Linked DNA regions of Homo sapiens. The protein of the gene in region 2 purifies or fractionates together with the protein of the main gene of each other region. This does not show direct contact. Each region holds a gene or a part of one and is shown on either strand. Other genes may lie near its edges.

The links. The genes of interacting proteins can lie anywhere in the genome.
Region 1: the proteins of CORO2B (region 2) and ARHGEF25 purify together in Homo sapiens (affinity purification with mass spectrometry; 2 studies listed by BioGRID and IntAct, with this or other methods). This does not show direct contact.

What each region holds. Positions count from the first base shown.
Region 1 is NC_000012.12:57,613,942-57,617,938, forward strand, and holds the end of ARHGEF25 (rho guanine nucleotide exchange factor 25), read left to right. Parts: intron 1-74; coding exon 75-178; intron 179-389; coding exon 390-459; intron 460-574; coding exon 575-664; intron 665-747; coding exon 748-840; intron 841-1,025; coding exon 1,026-1,076; intron 1,077-1,295; coding exon 1,296-1,373; intron 1,374-1,570; coding exon 1,571-1,771; intron 1,772-1,895; coding exon 1,896-2,076; intron 2,077-2,342; coding exon 2,343-2,554; intron 2,555-2,842; coding exon 2,843-2,953; 3' UTR 2,954-3,304; downstream 3,305-3,997. UniProt on the Homo sapiens protein: May play a role in actin cytoskeleton reorganization in different tissues since its activation induces formation of actin stress fibers. It works as a guanine nucleotide exchange factor for Rho family of small GTPases.
Region 2 is NC_000015.10:68,714,838-68,722,523, reverse strand, and holds part of CORO2B (coronin-2B), read right to left. Parts: intron 7,310-7,686; coding exon 7,213-7,309; intron 3,827-7,212; coding exon 3,714-3,826; intron 3,381-3,713; coding exon 3,290-3,380; intron 3,112-3,289; coding exon 2,972-3,111; intron 1-2,971. UniProt on the Homo sapiens protein: May play a role in the reorganization of neuronal actin structure.

The DNA.
Region 1 (3,997 bases), on a different chromosome or scaffold from region 2:
TTGTGTACAGGAGCACCATTAAGGTGGGGAGAGGGCCACCACATGCTCATGACCCAACCTCAACTTTCCCACAGGGTTATATGGCCACCATGGCTGCTCAGGGGGTCCCCGAGAGTCTTCGAGGCCGTGACAGGATTGTGTTTGGGAATATCCAGCAAATCTATGAGTGGCACCGAGAGTGAGTGGTGGAACTCTGACAGCTAGGTGCTGGAGAGGGGCCCTCATCTGGTTGTCCTGTATCCTAACATCAGCCCATTGCGACTTAAGGAATGTTTGGAGAAGTTTTGTAGGGCACACTACCAGGGCAGACAGCTCGAAACTGCTGGGAGTGGGCGAGGTGGGGGTTGTGAAATGTATTTGACCTGCTGCTTCTCTACCAACCCCTCCAGCTATTTCTTGCAAGAGCTACAACGGTGTCTGAAAGATCCTGATTGGCTGGCTCAGCTATTCATCAAACACGTGAGGCTTGAGGGGGCAGGGCCTGGGGCGGGGCTTAGGAATGGGCTGGGATTCTCTGGAGATGCGTCCTCCCTCCTTGCCCACCCTGCTCTCTCTTAAACATTACCCCTGTTAGGAGCGCCGGCTGCATATGTATGTGGTGTACTGTCAGAATAAGCCCAAGTCAGAGCATGTGGTGTCAGAGTTTGGGGACAGCTACTTTGAGGTCAGTAGCTGAGATGTCTTGGTGGGAAGGAGGACAGAACTGGGGCTTTCCAGGCTGCATAACCACCCTGTCCCTGTCCCCAGGAGCTCCGGCAGCAGCTGGGGCACCGCCTGCAGCTGAACGACCTCCTCATCAAACCTGTGCAGCGGATCATGAAATACCAGCTGCTGCTCAAGGTCAGGACCCCCTTTTTCCTGGGGGCACAGCTGGCTGGCACAGCTGTTTCCTCATTCATCTCCCCAGGGTTCTTAGGGCTCCCCCAGACTTCCTGAGGGCCCTCACTGGTGTCCTCAGGGGAGGATGTGAGAGCTTCTAAGGGTGTCCTCGTGACCTCCCTGAGCATTTCTTCTCTCTGTCTTAGGATTTTCTCAAGTATTACAATAGAGCTGGGATGGATACTGCAGACCTAGAGGTGAGGACCCCAGATCTTCCAGGACACACCATGTGCTCCTTATCCTCCTAGTATCTCATGGGTTCCCCCAGCCCCTTGGGTGGTTTACAGCTGTCTGGTTTTTAGGGGGAGGCTGGTTGGGGTTGAGATACCGTCTGAAGAGGCAACTGGCCGAGGAGGCCTCTTTCCCAATAATGACTCTCTTCGCCCAACAATGCGCCTCCCTCACCTGTGTCCCAGCAAGCTGTGGAGGTCATGTGCTTTGTGCCCAAGCGCTGCAACGATATGATGACGCTGGGGAGATTGCGGGGATTTGAGGTACGGAGATAGGGCAAGAAACTGGAGGCCCGATGCTCTTCTGCCCCAGCCCTAGCATTCAGGAGGTCCTTATGGGGAGTTGTCTTCTCCTGGGGCTGACCCCATGGTTGGTTGGGCATGTCAGGCGAGGAAGGGAGGAGCAGAGAATTGTCCTTTTTCTTGTTCTTTTTCCAAGGCCACTATCCTTTTGGTTTCAGGGCAAACTGACTGCTCAGGGGAAGCTCTTGGGCCAGGACACTTTCTGGGTCACCGAGCCTGAGGCTGGAGGGCTGCTGTCTTCCCGAGGTCGAGAGAGGCGCGTCTTCCTCTTTGAGCAAATCATCATCTTCAGTGAAGCCCTGGGAGGAGGAGTGAGAGGTGGAACACAGCCTGGATATGTATACAAGAACAGCATTAAGGTGGGGAGAAGGCCACGAGGGAGGGCTTGGAGAGAGAGAGGGCATGAGGCCTCTGAGAGGATGTCTCAGAGGAGCCAGGGAGGGCCTGAGGAATCTGGGGGCTGTCTCCTATCTGCCAATTCAGGTGAGCTGCCTGGGACTGGAGGGGAACCTCCAAGGTGACCCTTGCCGCTTTGCACTGACCTCCAGAGGGCCAGAGGGTGGGATCCAGCGCTATGTCCTGCAGGCTGCAGACCCTGCTATCAGTCAGGCCTGGATCAAGCATGTGGCTCAGATCTTGGAGAGCCAACGGGACTTCCTCAACGGTGAAGCTCTCATCCTTTCTTCCCGATGTGCTCTCTCAGCCCCTTAACCTCCTGAATCCCTCACTGCCCAGTCTCCAGTACCTACCCTCTGACCATGGCCCATCCCCTTTTCCACTGCTAGCTCAAAATTTGATAGAATCCCCTAAAGCCCTAAGCAATTGACATTGGCTGACAGGGAGGGAGGGCAAAGTGGGAGAATGATACAGGCCCTAGGGAGCAGACCTGTCTCTGCGGTAACCCTCCTTCTGTTCCTCTCTTTGCTCCAGCATTGCAGTCACCCATTGAGTACCAGAGACGGGAGAGCCAGACCAACAGCCTGGGGCGGCCAAGAGGGCCTGGAGTGGGGAGCCCTGGAAGAATTCAGCTTGGAGATCAGGCCCAGGGCAGCACACACACACCCATCAATGGCTCTCTCCCCTCTCTGCTGCTGTCACCCAAAGGGGAGGTGGCCAGAGCCCTCTTGCCACTGGATAAACAGGTATGACGAATAGAGCTCCCTCATTGTAGGGATAAAAAGGGGAGAGCCTCTCTTGTTCTGGGACCCCAAGTTCCCTCCCCATATCATTCCTTCCTTTTATCTGGTCCTTCCTACTTCCCATCCCTTACGCTTCTCCCCTCTATTTTAACTCTGGAGAAGCTGATAGTCTCAGACAGTCTAAGATATCTAGCAAGAGGAGGTGGCTTGGCTAGGGACTTAAACTGAAAAGAGAGAAGTGAGGGTAGATTTCTGGCCTTTTTGATCCTCTGACTTGAATCTTTTCTTCAGGCCCTTGGTGACATCCCCCAGGCTCCCCATGACTCTCCTCCAGTCTCTCCAACTCCAAAAACCCCTCCCTGCCAAGCCAGACTTGCCAAGCTGGATGAAGATGAGCTGTAACTGGTGAAAACCATGGGGGTGGTGCTGACTCAGCCGCCTATTCCCCAAGGAGCTTCAGGGCAGTCCTTCTGGCACTGCTCCAGAATTCCTCCTTCTTGGTGTGTCTGGAGGGTGGGCAAGGCTGGGAGGGATATCAACTTGGAGGAGAACACCTAGACCCAAGGACTTTTTTCTGCCCAAGGAACACAGTTTCCTTCAGCTCCCATCCCTATGCATGCATCATGGTCCCCCCAAAAGGAGGATATGTGGGTGGGTGGGAGGGCTGGGGCAGGGGCCAGATAGAAATTATTGGTTTTGTTTTTTAATTTTGTTTTTCCTGTTTTCTGAGAATAAAGGTTTTGTTATATCACCGAGGCTGCTGTCTTGGCAGAGGGAAGGGGAGGCTGTAGTGGGGGTAGGTGGGGTGAAGTGATATGGAAGAGATCGGTTGGCCCCAGCCATTGGAGGAGGGGGTCTGGTGAAAGGAGAAGGGGACAGGGTGTAAGATAAAAGATGTTGCTATCTTTGTCCCTCAACTGCAGTTGCAGCAGTTGAGGGACAAAGACTGAGGCATGGAACCACTGGAAAGCCCTTAGATTCTTCTTCTTCCCTTTTTTTTTTTGTAGAGTTAGGGTCTCACTATGTAGCCCAGGGTCTTGAACTCCTGGGCTCAAGTGATCCACCAGTCTTGCCCTCCCAAAGTGCTGGGATTGCAGCCATGAGCCGTTGCATCTGGCCAGCCCTAGATTCTTGATGTATCCTCTTTACCCAGCCCTTCTTTTTCCCTACCCACCCTCTGGTCTAGACCCCACCAGAAAGCCCAATGCAGTGTGACTTCTCACCATTCCCCCAACACCCAGATACGAAAGCACAAAATGCCAATGTACCTTTCCTTCTGAGGCTACCATGTTCAGCTGAGGGAGGATGGGAAGGTGGAGAGGATCCTGGGGGCTGAGACCTTTTCCTGGCTCTGGGTCTCCTTATCTTTGCTCTCTGCGAGGTCATAAGCCATGTTCATAGTGAGCAGAAGGGGATTCTTCTTCAAGCCATGGACCCAAGAGCGGA
Region 2 (7,686 bases):
TCAGCGATTTTTAGTAAAGTTCCTGAGTTGTACAATCGTAGGACTTTTCCCTCGCATCAAGCTGTCAGTTGTTTCCTCACACTTAGATCAATGCGTCCACCTTTGACAGCCCCACTTTCTAACTGGCTGCTTCCGAACTGCTACGATGATTAAAACTGTGGATAAAGGCAGAGTCAGCAGGCTTTGAGAAAGCTTCTTCCCAGCGAGGAAGATGCACAACTTTGGTGTAGATTGTGGCATCTGTTTTGTCTGCTCTGAGACCCTTTAAGCTTTTCCTCCAGGTTCTCAATTCTGATTCCATAGGCAAGTCTACAGCGAAATATTGCTTGATTTAACTACTATTCAACCCTGCCTTCTCCAGACCCAGTGCCAGAACTGAGCTCAGGCCCTTGTTATTGCCCTCCTGGGCTATCACAATGACCCCTGTGTCTCTATCTTCAAAGAGTAGAGTTCTTTTAAAAACAAGAAAATAGCTGGGCGCAGTGTCTCATGACTGTAATCCCAGCACATTGGGAGGCGAAAGTGGGAGGACTGTTTGAGCCCAGGAGTTTAAGACCAGCCTGTGCAATATAGTAAGACCCTGTCTCTACAAAAATGTTTAAAAACAAATTAGTTGGGTATGGTGGTACACGCCGCTAGTTCCAGCTACTCAGAAGTCTAAGGTGGGATTATTGCTTGAGCCTCGGAGATTGAGGTTATAGTGAGCTATGATCGTGCCACAGCACTGCAGTCTGGGAGACAGGGCAGGACTCTGTCTCTAAAACATAAATAAATAAATACAAGAAAACACTTAAAAATTTTTTAAATGAAAAATGTTATATATCTATATTAATAGAAAGTATAGCACCATGAACCCCCAAGTACCCATCACTCAGCTTTAGTCTCTGCCTCCTGGGTTCAAGTGATTCTCCTGCCTCAGCCACTTGAGCAGCTGGGATTACAGGCGCGCACCACCACGCCTGGCTAATTTTTGTATTTTTAGTAGAGACAGGGTTTCACCATGTTGACCAGGCTGGTCTCAAACTCCTGACCTCAGGTGATCCACCCGCCTTGGCCTCTCAACGTGCTGGGATTACAGGCATGAGCTACGGCGCCCAGCCCGTATGACCATTCTTACTTCGCCTCTACTGCCACCCACCTACACTGCACCACTTTCCTCAGGGGTTATTTTAAAGCAAATCCCATTTATCACATCATTTCATCTAGCCCTGAATATCCCTCTACAATGGCATACAAGCATATTTTATGGCAATTATCAAGTTACCTGCCAATCTCCCCCTTAAGACTGTGAGGTCCCAGAGGTCAAGAAGGGTCTTATTTTTATTAATAATAGTGATTAGTGGGCCAGGTGTGGTGGCTCACATCTGTAATCCCAGCACTTTGGGAGGCCGAGGCAGGTGGATCACCTAAGGTCAGGAGTTCAAGACCAGCCTGGCAAACATGGTGAAACCCTGTCTCTACCAAAAATACAAAAATTAGCTGGGTGTGGTGGTGCACACCTGTAATCCCAGCTACTTGGGAGGCTAGGGCAGGACAATCGCTTGAACCTGCATAGGTTGCAGTGAGCTGAGATTGTGCCACTGAGCTCCAGGCTGGGCAACAGAGTGAGACTCTGTCTCAAAACAAAAAATAGTGATAGCATAAGTTGGTGGTATAGACTGTCTAGTTTAAGATGGCTCCCATTTTATCCCCTCTCCTCAAGCATGGGCTGGCCCTAATAGCTTGCTTCAAATGAACAGAATAGGGCAGAAGTGGTGGGATACCATTTCCAAGATTAGGTGACAGAAAGACTGTAGCTTCCATCTTGGGTGCCCTCTCTTGCTCTTCTGCTCACATACCCTGTTGTGAGCTGCCTTATGGAGGAGTCCACGTGGCAGGGACCTGAGGGAAGCTCTGGCCAACAGCCCAAGGAGAAACTGAGGCCCTCACTCCAATAGCCCCTGAGGACATGAGTCCTAGCAGCAACCACATGAGTGAACTTGGAAGTTGAGCCTTCAGATGTGATTCCAGCCCCAGTGGACAGTGTAACTGTACCCTCATGAGAGACCTTCAGCCACGGGCATGCAAAGAAACTGTGAGCTAATAAGCATTTGTGGGTTTAGGCCATTAAGTTCTAGGGTAATTTGTTACACAGCAGTAGGTAGCTAATACAGGTGACCTTTTTCTCTGAGCACTTAATATGAGCCAGGAAGAGTGCTAGACACTTATGAATTATCTCTTTAATGCTCACAGCTTTCCATATCCCTATTTTACCACAAGGAAATGGACTTATAAAGGTCAGTAGACTTGCTCAGTCACAGCCAGGAAATGGCAGAGCCAGGATTCAAATGCAGGTGGGGTCATGCAGCCATCTCCATTTCAGTTGTATCAGGCCTTATGTCTGGCACACAGTAGGCATCCTGTGAATCCCAGCTGAGCTAAACCATGTTGGCATCAGGGAATGGGGGTGTGGGCTGGAACGAAATACCGCTGGGGGACATGGACAAGGCCCAGCCGAGCTGCCCCAAAAGAGCTTGCTCCCATTCCAAGTGGTACAGAGAGCACCTTCATAAACACCCAGTCTCTTCCACAAAGACTGGAAGTGTCAGACTCCAGCACTGCTGCAACGCCAGCGAGGGAGGCAGGGCTGTGATACACGAGGCCGGGCTTGCCCCTGTTAGTCAGGAATTTATAACTCCTGGAACTCCAAATGACAGCAACGTTCTGAAATGAGTTCATGAGGAGATGCATAACTGTGGGTTAGTGAATTTGAGGCGTGGGGGTGGTGTGGGGAACCGATATCTCCAGACATCCCAGCTTCTATTTATTGGGGTCAGAAGCATCAGAAGCCAATATCAGGCTACTTATGGCATTTGTCACAGAAAGAAAAATGTCTCAGAATGGAACTGGCTTAAAGGCCTGAAGCCCATAATTGAAATGTAAAGGTCTTGCTCTTCCAGGGCCTGTGGAGGTAATAACTTACATTCCTTACCTCATTCTCTGTCCTGGGTGGGACATTTTCTAATAAATCTATTCCGTTGACCACAACACTCTTCTTTTCTTTGATGGGAGCCTTAAATACCATTTTTGAGGACTTCTTATAGCCTTCTTTCAAAGACATCAGCACGGGATCTAAAGAAGGCAAGGGAAACGCTCTCACTGACGATCCCATGGACTGTCAGGTGATGGTCCAGCAGGCTGGGTGGGAGGGAAGTTCAAACAGGGGGACAGACAAGGAGAACTGGGGTGAGCTGCGCTGAAGGCAAAGGCTGCAGCCGCCTGTGCTCTGTGGAGCCCCCCGCTGTGGTACCTCGGTTGATGCCTCCCAGCCATTCATCCGGGGTCAGTGCTGGCTCCGTGCCTGGTGTCATTGGGTAAATGTCTTCCTGGTAGGAATCTGACTACAGTGGGAGGAGCAGAAGAGAGGACACATGGGGGGCTGCTGGGAAAGCCCCTACTCTTCAGTCAGACTCTTCTTACTGATCTCCAGTCACTCTACCTGCTCTCCTGCCTCTATGCCTTTGCACTGTGTCTCCCTCCTGGAACTACCTGACTGCACTCATGAGCAAACCCAACTGTCCCCATCTGAGAATGCCCCTCACCCCAAATTAGGTTTGAAGACCCCAGTTCACAGCACATCTCTCACCTGGGTTTCTCCAGGGTCATGGTCAGTGGTGAGCAGGCTAAGAGGCGATGCAGGCCCCCCTCCTGGAGCCCAGCCCAGCCCCACTTACCCTCCGGGGCACGATCATGGAGATGGGCTCGATCAGGCCCTTGAGAGTCACCAGCTTGTAGAAGCGGAACACCTCGCAGGCTGACACATCCAGCCCGTGCTTGGGCATGACCCCTGTAACAGGCACACATGTGGCTCCATGGGGTCCCAGAAACTGCGTCTCAGTGACATCACCCCATGATGTTCTGGGCCAGGGGAAAGGCTGAGGAATGTACTTAGGTTTGGAGGCAACGGCCCATGCAGAGGGCAGGGGGTAGACCGGGGCGCCTTCAATCAGTCTCTGTCTCTGGGTGGTCACTTCTCAAGCTCCTTGGGCCAGACCTGCCTCACCACAGTGCGTGCTTTAGAATTGGACCCTTTAGAATTGGAAGAAACTGCAGAAACATTTGAATCTAGCCCACTCCTTTTCTAGATGAGGGTCCAGAGAGGGTCAGAGGGCAAGGGGTTACCCAAGGTCACAGAGCACAGCAGGGGCAGGGCCACAGAGCCCATTACCCTCTGAAATGAACAGTCATCCCTAAGCCTCCTGTGTCTCCAGTCCTGAGAGAGAAAGGAGGGAGAGGCCATTCCCCATACACCCTAGAGGTCTGGACGCAGCCTAAGATTGCTGTTCTGTTCTATGTCTCCTAGAACCAACAATGTGTGCCCATGTTTCCTGTGTGGGTTCACTTACCACATGTCCCTAACAGCTGCCTCTGCTGAACGTCTATCATGGGGATGAGGGGCAGTGTGGTGGTGCTAGGAGCACAGCTCTATCTAGGGGTGGACCAACGGGGTTTGAGTCCTCACTCTGCCCCCTTTCCATCTAGGAGTCCTTTGGCAAGTTACAACTCTCTGAGCTTCCAGTTCCTTGGCTGGTTCGAGGAGGACAACAATGGCCCTACCTGAGGTGATCAGCAGAATATGTTCCAAGATACTCATTAACTGCCTGGCACCGTGACGAGCACAGACCACATTCATTTCTTTCCCTGTATTGTGAATATGAGTTAAGGCTCTGCCTCTCCTCCTCTGGGCTGGAAGCCTGCTCTTCCACATAAAGGAATTCCAGGAGCTGGAGGTAAGGGGTGAAATGGTTTCCCAAATGGGATTAAGAGCCAGCAGATTCGGTCTGAGTTCTTCTTCTGCTACTTAGCAGATAAGACCTGCCTCAGGTGAGTTGCTTAACTTTTCTGAGTCTACAAGAAGTGCCTACATCACAGCAAATGCTCAATAGTGGTCACAGGTGAGGAGGATGAGGATGAGGATGAAGTGAGTCATTCTGAGCCCTTCCTGCTTCTTTCCTCTCCACCCCTCCATATCCGATACCTTAGCAAGTCCTGCTGACATTACTTTCTAAACATCTGGATTCACACTGTTCTCCCCGTCTTCCTTCTCCCCACCTATTATTCTCTCTTGCCTAAAAGTCTGCAACTTCTTCCTAACTGGTTTCCCTGTCTTCCTCCTGCCCCTCCCAAATCCATTCTCTCTACTGAAGCCAGAGAAATCTTTTTTTTTTTTTTTGACAGAGTCTGGCTCTGTTGCCCAGGTTGGAGTGCAGTGGTGTGATCTTAGCTCACCGCAACCTCTGCCTCCCGGGTTCAAGCGATTCTCCTGCCTTAGCCTCCCAAGTAGCTGGGATTACAGGGGTGTATCACCACACCCAGGTACTTTTTGTATTTTTGGTGACAGGGTTTAGAGACAGGGTTTCACCATATTGGCCAGACTGGTCTCGAACTCCTGACCTCAGGTGATCCACCTGCCTCGGCCTCCCAAACTGCTAGGATTACAGGCTTGAGCCACCACACCTGGCTGCCAGAGCAATCTTAACTAACATTTCGGATCCCATCATGTTGTCTCATGTCCCACTCAAGAAAAAGAACCCTCCCCATAATGATTTCCTTATCAAATGCAAACTCCTTTCCCAGGCTAATGCATCCCATGGATTTAGCCCCTGCCCCCCTCTCCGATGGTCTCCTAACATCCTCCCCCCATCTCCTGCTACATCACAGAGTCTACACCACGCTCAGCCACACTGACCTCCCTTCTGCTCCTAGAACATGCCAGGCTCATTCTGGCCACAGAGGCTTTGCACTAACCATTCCCCCTGCTGGGACTGCTCTTTCTCCTTCCCATCTTTCAGAGCTCAACTTAAAATACCATCATCACAGAGAGGCCTTCCCTGACCACCGGGGTGAAGTAGCCCCCAGTCACTTTCTGTTCTAGCACACCATTTGACTCTCTGCCTAGAACTCATTCCCATCCAATATTTTTCTTATTTGTTTATTGCCTGTCTCCTGCTCAGTGGAATGTGATCTCCATGAGAGTAAGGCCATGTTCTGTTTTATTTGCCACTGGACTTCGCGCAGGGTCTGGTACACAGCTGGAGGTCAATAACTGTTTGTTGAACAACTATGTGAAGGAGCAGGAGGAGTCAAGTGCTCTGCCAGGTGCCTTGCACATGTGGTCTCTAAGCCTTACATTAGCCATTCAAGGAAGGTTTGATTATCCACATTTTACAGATGAGGAAACTGAGACTTAGAGGGATTAAGTGCACAGCTGAGCCAGAATGTAAACCCAGGTCTGACTCCAAAGTCCAGGCTGATTTTTATACTATTTGATGCAGGAGTGACAGTGAAGGAGGTGGGGATGACAGAGTTGGGGAAGAGTAAAGTTGATGGAATGGTGATTAGGACTTCGGACATCTTTTGGTTTCCATTTTGCTGTTGGTCACTGGAGTGGGCTCTCAGGCCCTTTCAGCCCCGATGTTCCTGAAGCTGGCCCTCAGGCCCTGTCCATAATACCAGACCCACAGGGAAAGCAAGCTAGACTCAAGCTCCAAAGAGGATCACCCGCAGAGGTGGGAACGGGAGGTCCCTGAAAATAGGTGTTTCATTGGGTGATTTGGACCCGAAATATAGAATTGCTGAATCATATGCATTACCAGGTTAGTTGAAAGGAAGGAAAATTGGTTGTAAGACTTTTAGTGGTGGGAGAATGTGGGGTCTCACTCACTACACCCTGTCAATCCCAGAGCCCTCTCTGGGTTTCTGCCTGAGAGCCTAGGGAGCTTGGGGCTGCAGTCACGGGAACACCTGGAACTTCTTCCTGCCCTATCAGGCAGACAGAGCTGCTGCTGGGATCTGGGAGTCACGGCTTCCTAGAGGCTCAGGAAGGGACTTGTGCCTAGACCCCACTCTGACCTCTAGTTACGGGACCACTTCCCACCATCATCATAGCCACTGTGGGCTTCAGGCTCCCCATCTGCGATCAGGAGTGCAGACGCAGAGCACATGCTGGCAAGCTGCCGCTGATGGTGGATGTGAGCACAGTGGGGTGACAGCGCCGGTCCAGTGGGCAGTGACAGCTGCAGCAGGGCCAGCTCTTGCAGGTTCTGTTCCAACTTGCCCATGTGCTATGGCCTTCTGAGTCTGATTTTCCACTTAAGGGAGGGGGTGACCCATGGGCCAGATGTCCTCCCGTGCCATGAGCACACCAGCTGTGGCAGCCTCGGGGCCACTTACCTAGGCCTTTCTGCGGGGCTGGGGAGCGGAACTCCATGAGGTAACTCAGGTAGGGCTTCTCAGTGCTGATCTCGTAGTACCGGATGTTTCCATCACCCTGGGGTCAGGAGAGATGGAGTTGAGGAAGGTGGCAGGTAGGGAGGGCAGAGCAGGGCCTGGTCCCAGGAGCCAGCTGAAGACAGCTCTCCCCTGTGCCTCATGGGCAGTTAAAAAAACCAAGGAAACCTGGCTTCTAGGCTCCTAGTGGGTGCACCACAGGGGACTCACTGCGGGTGGAGAGGTGGAGGTGGATGGGCTGATGTGAGTGTGTGTGTGTAGACAGCCTTTCTGACAAACAAGGCTGTATTCACCAAGGATCTCCTGGCGGGTATCTCAAATTCCATCATTCATCACTGACTACACTGCAGGCTCTGATCTTTATTCCAATGTAAAAGCCCGCTCCAGCTCACCTTTGAAGGAATTCTTGGTAGCAGA